2 separate regions of the Homo sapiens genome follow, and region 2 is linked to region 1. A link means that fine-mapping ties the variant in region 1 to the expression of a gene that starts in the linked region. Tissue or cell type: whole blood. Region 1 holds a variant in brackets; the other region holds the start of a gene. All regions are shown on one strand. Distances are from middle to middle.

Evidence for each region. PIP is the estimated chance that this variant, and not a neighbour inherited with it, causes the effect.
Region 2: it holds the start of TET3, and the variant in region 1 is fine-mapped to the expression of TET3 in whole blood (TOPMed, PIP 0.96).

What each region holds. Positions count from the first base shown.
Region 1 is chr2:73,825,152-73,833,255 of GRCh38, reverse strand. It overlaps STAMBP (STAM binding protein), which reads right to left and starts at 4,295. Exons shown (of 10, transcript NM_213622.4): 1 at 3,746-4,295; 2 at 2,197-2,411. The coding sequence starts at 2,399. LOC105374807 (a long non-coding RNA gene) reads left to right here and starts at 2,858. Exons shown (of 3, transcript XR_940246.3): 1 at 2,858-2,940; 2 at 4,352-4,499. RefSeq lists enhancers at 1-83, 1,599-2,798 and a silencer at 4,306-4,524. The variant G/A (reference allele first, on the strand shown) is at 3,842.
Region 2 is chr2:73,980,027-73,988,130 of GRCh38, reverse strand. TET3 (tet methylcytosine dioxygenase 3) reads right to left here and starts at 3,221. Exons shown (of 12, transcript NM_001287491.2): 1 at 2,974-3,221; 2 at 1,425-2,151. The coding sequence starts at 1,727. It overlaps DGUOK-AS1 (DGUOK antisense RNA 1), which reads left to right and starts at 6,692. Exons shown (of 2, transcript NR_104030.1): 1 at 6,692-6,996. RefSeq lists enhancers at 1,799-2,028, 3,922-4,845 and silencers at 2,509-2,678, 3,102-3,300, 3,059-3,748.

The sequences.
Region 1 (8,104 bases):
AACATAAGAGTTAGGTTACAAGTGTAACAAATAGCTGAGTCTCAGCCAATCATAGCAGCTGAAACCTCCAGCCAATTGGAGGCTAAAGCCTGCCAAAACATGACCAAATAAGGCAAACACATAACTGTAGCCAATCAGGCTATTTCTGTATCTCATTTCCTTTTCTCTGACTATAAATATAGCCTGCACAACCTCCACTATGGGGTGGAACATTCTGCACCACTTTTGGTCCTGAGTGTTCCCTGAACCTTTTTCTACTGGATTAAACTCTGTTAAATTTAACTTGTCTAAGGTTTTCTCCTCTTAACACAGGCAACACTTCTAAATAAAAAAGACAATAGCAGTCCCATTTCTCCACTCTACAATTACAATATGAATCCTAGACAGTCCATTCTTCCGCATACTTTCCTTTGGAGCACTGGTTCTCAGAGGTGATTCTGCCCCTGGGAGAACATCAGATAATGTCTGGTGACATTTTTGGTTGTCACACTGCGGGGAGGGGGGATACTGGCATCTGGTGAGCAGAAACCAGGGATGCTGCTAAACATTCTGTGACACACAGGACAGCTCCCACCACAAATAATGATTCAGTCCAAAAGGTCAATAGGGCCAAAGTTGAAAAGCCCTGCTTTAGAGGAGTATGTGATCAAAAACTTAATGTGATAAAACTGGTATGTGTATATCATCTCTTGGAAGATATCTAAGAAACTACTAAGAGTGGTTGTCTCTGGGGAGAAGCACTGAGGGTTTGGGGGGAAAAGAGGAGTGGGTGGGGAGACTTTTTTTTTTTTTTTTGAAACAGTCTCGCTTTGCCACCTAGTCTGGAGTCCTGGAGTGCAGTGGCACGATCTCGGCTCACTACAACCTCTGCCTCCTGGTTTCAAGCGATTCTCCTGCCTTAGCCTCCCAAGTAGCTGGGATTACAGGCACACGCCACCATGCCCGACTAATTTTTGTATTTTTAGTAGAGATGGGGTTTTGCCATGTTGGCCAAGCTGGTCTTGAACTCTTGACCTCAGGTGATCCGCCTGCCCTGGCCTCCCAAAGTGCTGGGATTACAGGCGAGAGCCACTGCGCCTGGCCAAGACTTACTTTTTAACTATAGTTATTCTTTTGTGCCTCTGAATTGTGCACCATATATATGTGTATATATATATATATATATATATATGTTACCTACTCAAAAATCAGTAGTAAAATAAATAACAAAAAAATAGCCAGTGTGGCTCATGACTATGATCTCAAAAGACTACCTCTGACTCTAGAACATTACTAAATGGAAAACAAGAAGAACAGGACCTATGTTGTAGAACAAATCCTGAATTAGGAGTCAGAAAACCAAGGTTTTGTCACTTCAAACATGAGCATCCACCAAACACTGAGTTTGTTTCCTCATATGTAGAATGTAGGGTAGTGTACCCTATTCCATGCACACAGAACTGTGAAGATCAAATGAAATTATGCAGGTGAAACACACTATGAGCTACTCAGAACCAAATACATTATAATTATTTTTTAAAAAGTCCTGATATTGTGAAAGAACAAGATTAGAAATGATAAATAAGACCTTTAACATTATTTCCTTTCTAAATTATGTATCATTGTCAATGGAGTTTTAGAAGTTGTTTGCTGTTAATAGTACTGAAATCTTCTACTTATGCTGCCTACCCTAAGATGATAAATAACTTAAGGGAAAGGTCTTATTATGATGAGCCACACAAACTGTAGGCAGTTACTAATTATTTGATGATTTGCATGATTATGATAAAGGTTAAGAGGAAAAAATTTTTTCCTGTATCACTAAATTTGCTACAAAATAAGTACAAGTGAGGAATTTTGGCTCTGCTAGACCCCAACAATAATCCTATGATTGGCTGCTTTAGTAGAAAGAGAACAGTAAAAGCATTCATCAGAACATAATATGTCTAGTTTAACCACCAACTCTTTTGTCTAACAGCTGGGCTATGTGGGCATAGGCCAAAGAACTAAATCTCTTACTCATAAATTACTGAGTCATGAAAATAACACCTTCAGCACTCATGTCTTTGAACGGCAAGGACAGCCAATATGTAGGAGTTGCCAGCAAAAATGATTAATGTTGATGATATTGTGAAGTTCTGTGGTTTTAGCAATTCTGAGCCAAATAGGCGAGGCACCAGTCACCAGAAAGGAAAAAGGAAACTGTAGGTGTCTTACGTGATATACTTGTTATAGAGGATGAAGGCATGTTCAATGTTGCCTTCCTCAGAGTAAATGGATGCCATTCGGATAATCTCAACTCCAGAGCGGAAGTACCGACGGGGTGGAATGTCTTCATTCACCTCTACCGCACTACCCAGCTGGGAGAGAGCCCTCACCCGGTCTTCGGGCGGGAGGCTCACATCTCCATGGTCAGACATCAGGACCAAGTTCTGAGACAGAAAAAACAGATGGCATCAATACCGTTGCCCTCATCATCCCAGCAGTTTTACAGTTTATCTCACAGACCTCTACCTTAAGAAGAAAATATAAGAGAAACATACCAAATGCTGTGGCTCCTATTAAATAAGGACTTTCCTACAAGAAGGCTGAGACCCTCAAGGAAGCCCAAATCACAACGATGAGAGTACTGGCAGACTAGAAAACATACAACCCCTGTACCATAATTAGGTGGTATAAGGAGTAGAACCACAGTGGACCAACCAAAGGTTCAGTTCAAGTTAATCAAATCCTTTGCCATTAGGGGGCTCCGCCCACAGCACTGTAAAAGTGGGAACAGCATCTTTTATTTTCTATTATTTCTCCTTCCAGATACCCACATACCTCCACCCCAGTACCTGGCAGAGTGCACTCAGTGAACTTTCTTGAGGATTGTTAACTAACTTCAAGGTTGACCATTTTTACTTAATCTGAGAGTAACTGACATTTTCTGTGGTATCCTTTTTCATATTTGAGCACAAGGTGAGTTAGGGGAACTGGTCTGGGAATTAATGCTCATAATTGTAACTCTGCTCACTAAACCACTATAGTCAATCTATAAAATCATTCATTCATCATTATCATGGCAAGAGACTTAAATCTTGAAAACAACCATTTACTCATCTTCATAGACTAAACACTGAATAACAAAAAGGCACGATGGTAACTTGCATTGCAAAAACCCCTGGTGTCCCAAAACTCCAGTAATTCTAGTCTTTCTAGATATAGTTGCTGTTAGAATCAGATTCCAAATTCCAACCAGATATCACCACTATCATCTCCAAAATAAAACTGGGCATTTGACACACATTGCATTACAGCAAACCCTAATCAGTATGCTCTAGAATACACAAACTACAGTAGAATAAATCTTGGAATTCAAGGCCCTGTGGCAACTGGCCCTCCCCAACAGAGATCTTTTGCTTCAGTCAGGATTCCAATCCGCCCAGGCATCCTCACATTTCAGTTTCATTTATCTATCCAGTTTTTCTTTTCTACTACAACTCTTCCCTCAGGGGTAGTCTTCTCTCAGCCAATTCCATCTTTAGGTCTCTTCAATATTCGGGTCACAATTCCTCCACAAACCTTCCCCTCTAAAACACCCTCACTAATAGCACAAAAGCCGTGAGGACTACTAGGGATGCAGAGATAGTCCATCTCTCACGAGGCCTCCTTAGGGACTCAGAAAGCCGCAAGCATATCTAAAACCTCCCCAAGTAATTAGTAAACCTAGTCCACGGCCCATGAAAGTTAACTGAAACAGAGGATGCTTGTTGCATCTCAGTACCTCTTGGGAGAGGTTCTTGTGGGTTAAGAAAGGAACCACCTCCCAAGGCCAGGAAGCGGCGCCGGTTACCACCTGGTTGAGCAATTCCAAAAAGGG[G/A]ATGCAGCATCTGCAAATGAGGGGGAAAGGCGGCGTAAAGGACCGAGGGGGAAATACGAGGAGGAGAAAGGAAGTAGCAGGAATGAGCGGAGGGGGCGTATACAGTAGGGAGGGCTCTATCGACAACTGCTTGAGGAACCCTTCTTGAAGGCACTCAAGACGAACTTGCCAACCCCAGGCACAATCATCCAGGGTTTTCGGGATCTTTCAAATGCAGTAGGCGGGGAACCGCTGGGCCTGGCTGGTCAGGCGCCAGCCCGCGGAGACAGAAGCCGTCGGGTGCCTCGAGCGAGGCAGGCCGGGCAGGGGACTCGGGGAGAGTAGGCTGCAGGCCCCACACTCACGGCGGCCGATCCCCTTCAAAGTCCAACCACGCTCGGAGGCCCTGCCCCACCACGTTCCCGGGACCCTTCCCCACCTTTCCCCGCGGATGACACCCGGAGGTTCCGGAAACGTCACATCCGGCGCCCGCTCCGCCCACTCCCGTTCGTCTGTCTATTACATTCCCAGTGATTTAGGACTTGGAACGGAGAGCTAGTAGGTGGGGCTAGAATCGGCACCTGCGGAAAATCCGACCAATGAGGAGCGAACGACACAGCGGCCATCTTGGTAAAGGAAAAGGAACAAGGAAGAAAGTGGAACCAATTAGCAAGCTAAGGTTTGCTTTTAAAATTATTTTGATTTGGGGTAGTCCCTCATCACACTCACAATACTCCTGCATTTAAGGAGGGATTGCTGATCCCAGCACAACTGCAGACTTAGCTAAACTAACCAGGATTTATAAATTGGGGGACAGAAAGTCTTTCGAATGTATTTTTTAGCTTGTATTACATTCTACACAAAAATTGGTAGTCTTAGATATTAGGCAATATCTAAGACTAATTTTATTGCTTAGAAAAGAACATAAGTCTAACTTTTTTTTTTTTTAAGACAGGGTCTTGCGGTGTCACCCAGGCTGTCACAGGAGTGCAGTGGTGTGATCATAGCTCACTGTGGTCTCCAACTTCAGGGCTCAAGCGATCTTCTTGCCTCTGCCTCCCAAAGTACTGGGATTACTGGCGTGTGCCACCGCACCCAGATGAGACTAACGTTTTAATGTCAAAAAACCTATAAAATATTTGGAAAAAAAGCGTTTAATCTCTAAGAGCCGCTATGCAAAAGCAGTGGAGACACAAAAATCTGTATGACACTGTTCCTGCCCTGAGACCGGGACAAGGTGGTTTTATGCATCAAATACAGAATGGCACGTTCTGCATGTAGATGTGTGTCTGTACGAATCCATATACATCCTCTTTACAAAAAGGTCCTACAAGCTTGCTAATCATTCTGTCTCAGAAGACTTTGTGAAACATTAGGCTTTGGTTTAAAAGTCTAAGTCTCTGGGGGACACTTTCCCAAAATTTGGGAGCCTCCCTGTGAGTTTGTTAGTGTGATGGCATGACCTATTCTTCAAGGTCTAGCTTAAATCCCTAATTCAGGTGTTGCCTCCTCCACCTAGCCAGCCTCCAGATCTCTCATTTCTCCCAACCTCCGTTGTGTATATTTCTGTTGGAGTTACCTGAAGTGATTTTGTGTAGTCATCAACTTTTCAGACTTAGGGTTGAAAGTACTTGCTTGCATCATATCACCTCCCCTTCTGCCCCCAGCAAGCATTAATGTGCATGGGTCTACTATCAACTCTCATGGATCTACTGCAGATAAATCTGGGAAGATAATTGTATAGGGCACTCTACTGTGTCTTCAAAACTCTCTCTACTGACTCTCTTCAGAATGTAAACATGATGGGTTGGGCCTAAAGAAATTGATGCACTGGAGATGCTGGTCATTGGGTGGGCATTATAGTGCAGATGGGGTCCTGGCAGGAGGCAACACAGGTCAAAATCTGATCCATTCAACCTCTCACTCAGTAAATGTTTACTGAGTGTCTACTATGTGCCAGGTTCTGTTCTAGGTGTTAGGGATACATCAGCAAACAAACCCAGCAGGTGGATACTCTAATGGTGGAAGCACAGGTAGAAGTACAGCTGGTGGGGTAGGGAGGGGCATCTGCTCCCATTCAGCACAATCTCTAAAGTAGTTCTTTTTTTTATAATGTTTAGCTTAACAAGTAAAGAAAATTTACAAACATCCTAGATTTTAAGATTATGATGAGAAGACTTTAAGAAGCTATAACTGAGACACACATATAAGGGGTGTGCATAGTCGTAAACATAGCTAGCGCCACATAGAGGCTGTTCCTGATATTAGAAAGTTAATATGCCCAGTTGCTAGCAGTTCTTAAGGTAATAGCTAAGTGAATATAGGAAGCAGGATCTAGTCTTTTTAGGGAGAGAATTTGTAAATGTTGACCAGAGTTTTTGATATCTGGGGCAAAGTTCAATACTCAGCTTTCTAGGGACCTGAAATAAGAAAATCTTGGCCAAGGTAAAAATTTTACATTCCTCATTTCTTGTTTAACTGGAAAAGTTTAAAAACTAAACAATTTTGTATACACAATCAGGAAATCAAAGCTATAAAAGATTCTTGGCATAACTGATGAGAATATCCTACCTACCCCTGCCCTAAAGATTGGAGGCTAAGCGTGGAAGGTATTCCTTCAGCAAATAGGCTTCAGCAGTTCACCTGGCAGACTAGACCAGGTTAGGAATTGAGATGCTCTTTCCTTCCGGTGCTCACTCCCAGCCATGAACACTTTTCCTGAATATAGCAGCCTCCATCTGGCCGCTTGCATATGCCAACGTCAGGTCTCCTGCACTCCTGCATGCTCATTCCTACTTGCTCATTTTTGGGCAGCAGCAAAAGATGCCTAGAAGGTGAAGTTCTTAATCTGAAATGTAACATCGGGGTTTAGAAAACACAGGCCTGGACCAGGTGCGCTGGCTCACGCCTGTAATCCCAGCACTTTGGAAGGCTGAGACAGGAGGATCGCTTGAGCCCAGGAGTTCGAGGATATAGTGAGCTATGATTACACCACTGCTCTCCAGCCTGGGCAACAGAGTGAGACCTCTAAAAAAACAAAACAAAACAAAACAAACAAAAAACCCAGGAGGATCACTTGAGCCCAGGAGTTTAAGGCTGTGGTGTGCTATGATCTCACCTGTGAATAGCCACTGCATTCCAGCCTGGGCAACATAGTGAGACTCCTATTGCTAAAAAGCAAAAAGAAGAAAAGGAAAAATACAGACCCAGCGGAGTTCGGGGGTCAGGGAGGGTAAAAACAAGGAAGACTCTAGGTGTATTTCACTTGCAAGGTTGGTACTCTTGTGTTAAGTGACATACCTAGAGGGACAATTGCATTAGTACAGGAAGGGCGTTCATTCTTACCTACTACAATGCATTCTTACAACAGCAGCTAATTTTTTTTTTTTTTGAGATGAAGTCTTGCTCTGTCACCCAGGCTGGAGTGCAGTGGCACAATCTCGGCTGCAACCTCCACCTCCCAGGTTCAAGCAATTCTCCCTGCCTCAACCTCCTGAGTAGCTGGGATTATAGGTGCTCGCCACCAAACTTGGCTAATTTTTGTATTTTTTAGTAGAGACAGGGTTTTGCCATGTTGGCCACGCTGGTCTTGAACTCCTGACCTCAAGTGATCCACCCACCTCAGCCTCCCAAAGTGCTGGGATTACAGGTGTGAGCCATCACGCCTGGCCACTAATGATCTTTTTAAAGCAAAAATCAGATTCCATCACTCCTCGGCTTAAAACTCTTCAGTGAATTCCCATGGCACTTGGAATAAACATCCACACTCCTTACTGGGGATTACAGAGTGACTCGGCCCCTGTTGCCTTTCTGACTTCATCTCCCAATCTCCTTGCTTAATACTCTCCACCGACACCATCCAAACATCTGCTTTTCCACTCAAGACCTTTGCATAGCTGACTCCTTTTCCTGGGATGCTTTTACCCTCATCTTCACTTGGCTGGCTCTGCCTCATCATTCATTTCTCAGTTTACATGTTACCTCCTCAAGGAGAACTTCTCTGACCACCCATTCTAAGGAGCCACCCAGTCATCCTTCATTAGTTGGTCTTATTTTAATTGTCTTGATAATCCTTACCACTGTCTGATATGATTTGGGTTGCTTATTGTCTTTCATTCCCCACTAGAATATAATTTCCAGAAAGTTAAGATCCTTTTCTGCCTTGCTCACAGCTCTATCCCCACTGCCTAGAATGGCTTGCGAAACCAGATGTGACACTCAATGAACATTGTTGAATGTTCAAATGTTGTTGAGATAAATATTGTCTCACTGTCCCCAAAATGA
Region 2 (8,104 bases), 150 kb before region 1:
GAAGTCTCCCAGGCTGGGGCTGGGGGCTGCATATGTGATCCAGATGTCTGCTTTAACCAGAAACAAGGGAAACAGGGCCCCGAGTCTGCAGTCCCTGGGTCAGGACATACAGCTTCCACAAGGCACGGACAAGACAAGGTGAGAAGGGGCAGAAATATCCAGCAACCCCATGTCCCTGTCCTCAACACTTGAATCTTTCTTCCTAGCCACGGGACCAGCCCCACCAGCTCGCTGTGAGGCTCTGCACTCAGCGGTCAGGGAAACCCAGAGCACGGGCTGCCAGCCCAACGCCAGCCACAGGGACCCGAGTCCTCAGAAGCAAGCAGCTCCCAGCCCAGCTGGAAGAGGCTTTGAAAGCCATCAAGTACAACTCTTCCACTTCCCCCAAGGAAAAGACAGGCCCAGAGAGGGGGCCCGAGTTGTCTGGGCCCTTGGACAAATGAATGGCAGAGCCAGGGGGAGCTCGAAGACAGCGCAGGCCTCCGTCTCTGTCCAGCGCCAGTTCTACTGCCTGGAGCGACCTCAGCGGCTACACCGCTCCTCCTAAGCTGCTCAACTTCGCTCAGCCCTACTTCTGCCAACTCTCTGCTGTCGCGGCTGTCACCAACCTCAAGCCGGCAGTCCGCCACTATAATGGGAGGGAAAGACGGCCAATGCAAGGTCATGGTCTCTCCCATTCCTTCCCACCCTGCCTGCTCTCACCCCAAATCTCCTTCCCTCCTCCACCCTACTACCCCAAATAAAGGGAGTACACCTCCCTGGGGTTGACAGTGTCTCAAAAGCATGTCATCCATTCATGCAATTAGTATCTGAGTGCCTACTACCTGCCAAGGAATTGTGCCAGGTCCCGAGAACACAGAAATAAAGTTTTTGACCGCAAGAAGAACTAAGATAGGGGAACCCAAAACATCAGTTCGTCACTAGATTCCCCAACAGTTTCAACTGGCTCTCTGGCCATCTGAGAAAAACGATGAAAGAAACATCCCACTCCATCAGGGCATCATAAAACCACCCTGTCAATCCAAAACTTTGTCTCCAAATCCATCAGCCTCCATCTCTTATCTTACACCCTCACTGACCAAGTCATCCAAGCATTAGCATGAGCTTGAAATACAACATCTGAGGCTTCAAGCAGCAGGACAAGAAACTTCTAGAGGTAAAGGTAGACATCACAGTCCCGCCTCAAATGCAAACATCAGAGATGAGGGTGCTAGCTCAGATCCCCCTTCTACCCAGTTACTCATACAAATTGTCAGCCCTGCAAAGGAGTCCAAACATGTCAGTTACACTCCTACTTAAAGTTGGACCAAGAGGATCAGAAATGAGAGAATGGACTCAACTGGACGAGCCTTGCTTGAACAAGACCCCCGTGATCACCGTGCCCTCGAGGAAGGAACAGGGTAGCCCAGCAAGGGCCGGCTTACCTCCTTGAGAAGCCCTACTTTTTTCTTCAGCACCTCACATTTTCGCAGTTTGCAGATCTGGTGCGTGCGGCGGTTGGTACAGCTAGTGCAAGCGCCACAGTTTTCCAGCCGCCGGCAGGGCTCACAAGTACCACACCGTTTCCGTTTCTTTCGACCATCTCCACCCCCTCGGAGTTGGGACTCACTCCCAGCCATGGAGAGCCCAGACCCCGGGAAGCTCCCTACCATCACCTGGCGCTGAGGGAAGTCATAAAGGCCTGGCAGGTCCGGCTGGACGGCCAGGGGCACCTGAAACTGGCTCATGATGCTGCCAGAGGTGGGGTCATAGGTGCTGGGGCAGAACCACAGTCGTTTCCTGCCACCTCCAAAGGCCACCAACAGGTCCTTCTCGCCTAGAACAGTCAAGAGTCTACAAGGGTGAAGGCAAGTGGCTTCAGTCTCGTGGATGGATGCCTCTTCTCAACCCCTCTTCACCTCCTCTGCAGCAGTCTGATCGGACTCCGTAGGGGGCCACTCTCCCACCTGCTGGGGCCCAGGATCTGGGGGAGGACACCAGCAGCAGCCCTCAGAAAAGGGATCATCTTGGCCCGGTGGGTTCTTCACCCTCACCCACCCTGGACCCAGGCATGAGTTGAGCAGGTAGGGGTGTGGTGGGGGCAGAGCTGAGTGAGCAGTTTCTCCTGGTATTTTTCCTCCAGGGTCTGGACGCTGGAGAAGGCAGTGCTGCCTGAAAAAGACAGAAAGGGGAAGCGCATCACTCGGGGCTCAGGGACAACTTTCACGTGTCACTTCTTCCTGTTTCTGGGAAGAGAAAATGGGGGAAGAGATGGGGCTTGCTCAATTGAGGTCCTGCCCAGAACCTCAGGCAGGACGCACCCAGCACCCGCTCCCTGTCTGAGGGAGGCGGCCTCGGGCCTGAGGGCTGCTGGGGGCCCTGGATTCAAGGGGGTGATCAAGGTGAGATTTCTAAGAAAGTTGCCCTCTTCCCCACCCCCACGGGCTGGTGAGAGTTTCACCAAAATTCCCCCACACGCCCTGGCTGGAGGCCGCCGGGCCCTCCCTAGGGAGCTGAGCTTTCAAAATAAAGTTTGCTGAGAGCCTCGCTCGGCGGGACTGCCCCGGCGCCCCCGGCACGGAAGCCGCCTGGAGGTGGGGGCGCGCCCTGGGCAGCCCGCGCCCGCCGCGCCCGCCGCCGGAGCGCAGCCCGCCAGCCCGACTGGGGAGGGCGGCCCGCGCCGCCGAGGGGCGCGGGGAGGGGGGCGCGCTCGAGCCGCGGGCCGGGCCGCGCGCGCGCCGCCGCTCGGGCTCCTTTGTTCTGGGGCCTCCGCCACTCCGCTCCGGCGGCTTCGCAGCCCCCGCCCCCGCCCCGCCACCCCCGCCCGGCTCAGCCGCACAGCGCCCCGCAGCACCCCAGTCCGGCCCCCCGCACCGGAGGAGCGGCCCCCCGCCGGATCCGGGCCGTCCCCTCCCCCTCCCCCGGGCCGGGCCCCCCGCGCCTCCCGCCGCCCCTCCCCCACTCCGGAGCCGGAAAGGCACCGACTGCACCGACCTGCCCGCCGCCTCCGGGGCGGAGCGCACAAAGGGGCAAAGTTTCCCGGCCCGCGCCGCCGCCGCCACCACCGTCGCGGCCGCCGCCGCCGCCGCCTGGGGCTCCCGCCTCCCGGAGCGCCCGGCCCGACCGAGCTCAGCGCGCGGAGCCCCCCGCCCGGGCCGAGGAGGGGACGGCGCAGGAGGAAGGAAGAGGCAGCGGCGGCCGCGGCGGCAGCAGCAGCAGCAATGAAGGCGTCCGCGGGACTCCCCGCCCCCCGCGCACCGCGGCACGTGCTCGCCCGGGGACTCCCCCGCCCGGGAGGGCGCACACGTGCGGCCCCGCCGAGCCCCGCCGGCCCGGCCGGGCCCCGGGCCGGGCGAGAGGGGGGTGGTTCCCGCGGAGGGGAGGGGTCGGGTGGGCGGCCTGCGAGCGGCTTGGGGCAGGCTCCGGCCCGGCCGCCGCTTCTCTGCACCTGCAGTGGCTCCCACCCACGCGGTCGGCCCTCCCGGGAGGCGGCCGCCCCCTTCGGGTTGGCCACCCTCGCCCTCCGGCGGGGCTGCAGCCGGGGCCGGCGAGGCGGGGTGGGGCACGCGGACCTTCCAGCCTAGGCCCTCGGCCGAGCCTCGCTCGGTGTCCCCACTTCCTGCCACTCCCTGCGGGCCAGATCTGTCCGGGACAGCCCCGGCGCCCCCGGGAGGCCTGAGCGCCGGGCCCGACTGACCCCCCTGTCCCAGCTGCCGCTGGCTCATTCCGAGGCAGGACAATGGGGGACATCGCGCGTTTGCGTACCGAGTCAGCCTGGCCGGCAAGAAGGGGTTGCTCGGGGGCAGAGGCTAAGGGCACCCTCGCAGGGGTCACGGCCGAATGCCCTGTCCAGGTGGACCCCACGGCCCTGCCATCACCAGCCTCCCCCGCGCCGCGCTCGATTCTTTCGCGTCGAAAACAAAGACTAATCCGATACCCCCGCCCTGCCTCCCAGAGGAGGGGGAACGGGCGCGTCGCGGAGGGTAACTGAGGAGGACAGCGTTCAGGAGGGCCTCGGACAGCCTCGAGGGGGCCGTGGGGCGACTAAGCCCTAAAACCCGGCGCAGACACTTTGAAGAGTCACCCTGGGCTACGTTCCAGGCAGGGGGTAAGGGGCAGGGCTCAGGAATATTTCCAAGTTGCCAAACTGCCCGTTCTCTCTGCTGCTTTTTTCCCTCACCTGTTGTGCAGGCCAAGTTGAAATTCCAGGTTAGATTAATTCAGCCCCACCCATCTGGCCTGACTGCCAGGCTGGTGCCTGCAACTGCCTTCCACCTACCTCGGTTGCAGGGGAGCAGGGTGGGTCTCTGACATACACGCGCACACACACACTCGGGCGAGTCCTGGCAGAAACAGCCACAGGACGGACTGGCCTGACCAGTTTGGGCGGTGCTCACGGAGCCAGGTACCTGGCAGGCGTCGCCGCCCGGCTGCAGCTAACAGCTTAGCCAGAACTGGAAAAAGAGCATTCGGCCGGCTATTTAGAAAGAAAGAAAAAAAAGTAACTGATCTGAAGTAGCGCTGTCCAGAAAGCCCTAGGCGGTAAAGCAGCCCGGGTTCTATCTGGAACTTCCCTCTGATTTTGACAGCCTGCTCCAGGGTCCAGGTTGTCAGCGAGGGAGTGGGTGGGGGTGAACATGGCTGCAATATCCACTTCCTACCATGGCCTTTGGGAGGACTGAAGAGTTTCTGTTCAGGGTAGTAAGACTAGAACCGAGACGAAAAACCAAGAGAGTGCAATTTTCAAACAGGGGAACAGGTTGCAGACTCGTAATTGTTTTTAATGTAATATATTTTTAATAAGCAACTTTATTAATAAAAAATGTGTATAAAGAAGACGTGGAGACTACAGATACTAGAGGGGAAAAATCACCAAATTACAACCATATTTAACCATTTGCTATATTTCCTTGTAGCCTTTCCTATTTGTGGATTTACTCACACTGATTATACAATTTGCCATCCTCTTTTAACTTAACATTGTACCATAGGCATTTCCCTGTTTGGTATACAGTTTTCAGAAAGTGTGACAGTGAGGTGAAGAAGATGGCTCAGGAGCCAGAGAACTCTGGCTTCCAAACCTGAATCTGCCACTTGGTAACAGTGTGACCTTGGACTAGGTACTCCATCTTCAAGGGAATCCAAGTAAAAGACTTAATATAGGGCTCAATGAATGACAACAACTAATATTGTTTAATCCATATGACAACCTTGTGAGGTAGGTACTATCATCAAACCCATTTTATGGATAAGAAAACAGATTAAATAACTTGCCCAGGATCACTCAGCTAGTAAGTTGTGGACTTTCAGAGGAGCCCAGCAGCCATCCTCTTGTATTCTGTCTGGGTAAATGGCACCAGCAAGTTACTGTGTCATTTACTCTTTGCCAGCAATCTATGAGAGGGTCATTTCATAAAGCCCTCTCGTTTAGGTAACTGGGTGAATGCTGGTGCCATTCACTGTGACAAAATGCAGAAGGAAGGATGCCTGGGGATGGAGACATTCGTGTGAAAGTGAGTGTGCAACTGAGGGGGTGAGGCCTGGGTTTGAGATTTGGGCCCCATCAGTGAGCAGACAGCGAGGCCTCAGTTGTGGAGGAGCTCATCCAGGGTGGATATGGAGTGTGAGAGGGAAAGGCTGCCAGGACAGAGCCCCAGGGAATACCAGCCCATGAGGGACAGGAGCTGAGAAGGCGCCGCCAGAGAGGTTGGAGGGAACCCAGCCAGGCTAGAGAGCTGCCTGTCATATCTTCCCGGCCTCTGGAACCTTACACTTCGGCAGTCCTGTTGCTCATTCCTTCTGCCTGGGGAAAAACCCTTCCCACCCCACCCCTTCTCAGCTACCCCTTGTACCTGCCAAATTCCCACTCATCCTGCAAGTCATAAGTGCCAGTTCCATGAAACCTCCAGCTGCTCAGATGATTCCAGAGCCCCACCCACTCTCCCTCCACAGAAGTTTGACTCTCCCTGCCTAGGAACAGTTATCTCATCGGCGCTGGGCACTGGAATGGTTTGCATGTTTCTTTCCCAGTTACTACAAACTCCTGGAAGGGTAGCACGCTGTCTTTCACCTCATAACCCTAGACCTAGCAACCAACCACTGTGTTGAATGAAGAGACGAGGTGAGTAGACCCTAATGAATGACAGACCCCAGTAACACTGAAGACCCATAGGCTTCTTTCCTGCTTTCTTTACGACTTGCACAAACTGGTCAGGGGCGCCCAAGATAAAACAGCCTAAACTCCTCAGGTCCTGCCTTCTGGTTCTCCAGCCTCCTGGGCTGCTGCGGCTATTCCCATTCACATTGCGCTCAGGGCAGGAGAGCAGCGGGGGTGGGCGTAGGGATAGGGCGAGCCCTTCCTGGGGCTGCATTAGCCTAGACGCAGTGGTTCCGCCAAGAGAGCCCCGGCACCAGCAGCATCACCATCTCCTGGGAACTGGCTAGAAATGCAAGCTCTCGGCCCCATCCTAACCCCACTGAATCAGAAACCCTGGGGGCGGGCCCAGCAATCTGTTTTAATTAGTCCGTCAGGTGAAGTCAAGTTAGAGCAGCACTGGACTACAGCAAGCGGGGGAGAAGGAAGTTCAGCACCCAGGTGGAGACTGCGATTAGGCCCCCAAGGCGCTTAGAGCAGACAGAGGGAGAGAGGCTCCTTTTAGGAGCGGGTTTGGCGGGCGCCACCCCAAGCGGCCAAGGGCGGAGCCTCTTTTAGGCGACTGCTCCCGCGAGGTCAGAGCCGGGCTGTGCCGCTGCCCCCGGGACTAGAAAGGGAAATCTCCTTGCTAGAGGAGGAAGCCCTAAGAACTCAAGGGAGATAGGGGTGGCAGGGGCATTTCCCTGGATGCCTGGAGCATGGAGGGTGCGAAATAAGGAGGCTTTCCTACCCCATTGATGAGCTGAAGTTGATTCCGCACGGGGGAGGAAAGGGACAGGAAGCATAATTGGATGTGCAAGCCTGTGGTTCTTCAGGAAGTTAACACGTGGAACTAACACTGTTGGATGCTGCTGAACTCTCAGGTGATTGATGTGACTAACCTCCTCAGGTACTTGACCTCTCTCCTCTTCAGCTAATGAGTAATTTGTCCTTATTTAAGAATGAGATTTGCGTATGGGGACCTTTTGCAGAAATGTAAATACATCCCGATATCCATACCTGGGCTTGGTTTTAAAGACTGAAGGTATTGGGAGGTTTATTTGATTTTGGATGTATTACTTCTTTGGTCATGTATTGGCTAAAAATATTATCAACTAATATTTGCATAGATCTTTCCCTTTTCAAAGCACTTCCACACACATTATCCTTCTGTCTGCACAGAGTGGCAAATACAACAAATGTGCAAATGTTAACTTTCCTTATCTATGACATAGTTTTTATTATCATCACCATTTTACAGATAAGAGAACTGGCGCTCAGTGAGGTAATTTGTCCAAGGTCATTCACTACTACATGTCAGAATCCAGGACCTACAATCCAGGACCTCTGAAATTAGCCCACGAATGCTAGAGCTGATACCAGGCAGAAGCTGGCATTTTGCTCTCAGGGAAAGGGAGGTTCATTAGTGGGTTGCTTGTGGACCTGCATTGGTGAGTGTGACACGTGTAGGATATCTATGCTATGCGTTTTTGGGTTTTTTGTTTTGTTTTGGTTTTGGGTTTTGGTTTTTTTTTTTTCTTTGAGATGGAGTCTCACTCTTGTCACCCAGGCTGAAGTGCAGTGGCGCGATCTGGGCTCACTGTAACCTCTGCTGCCCAGGTTCAAATGATTCTCCTGCCTCAGACTCTCGAGTAGCTGGGATTACAGGCACCTGCCACCGCGCCCAGCTAATTTTTGTAGTTTTAGTAGAGACTGGTCTTGAACTCCTGACCTCATGATCCACCCACCTCGACCTCCCAAACTGCTGGGATTACATGAGTGAGCCACCGCGCCCGGCTACTACGTTTTTCAATAGCCCCGCAAATGTCCTCATGTTTTATAACTAGTTTTGTGACTGCATTTTGAATTTTTTGAATCAAATAGGCTTCATTACTTGCAAGGAGAATGCAAGGGTACCCATCATAATGGAAGGAATACCCAACAGGGATAAAGGCCTTGGTGCCCCTGAGCCTTGGTTGACAGGGTGTATCA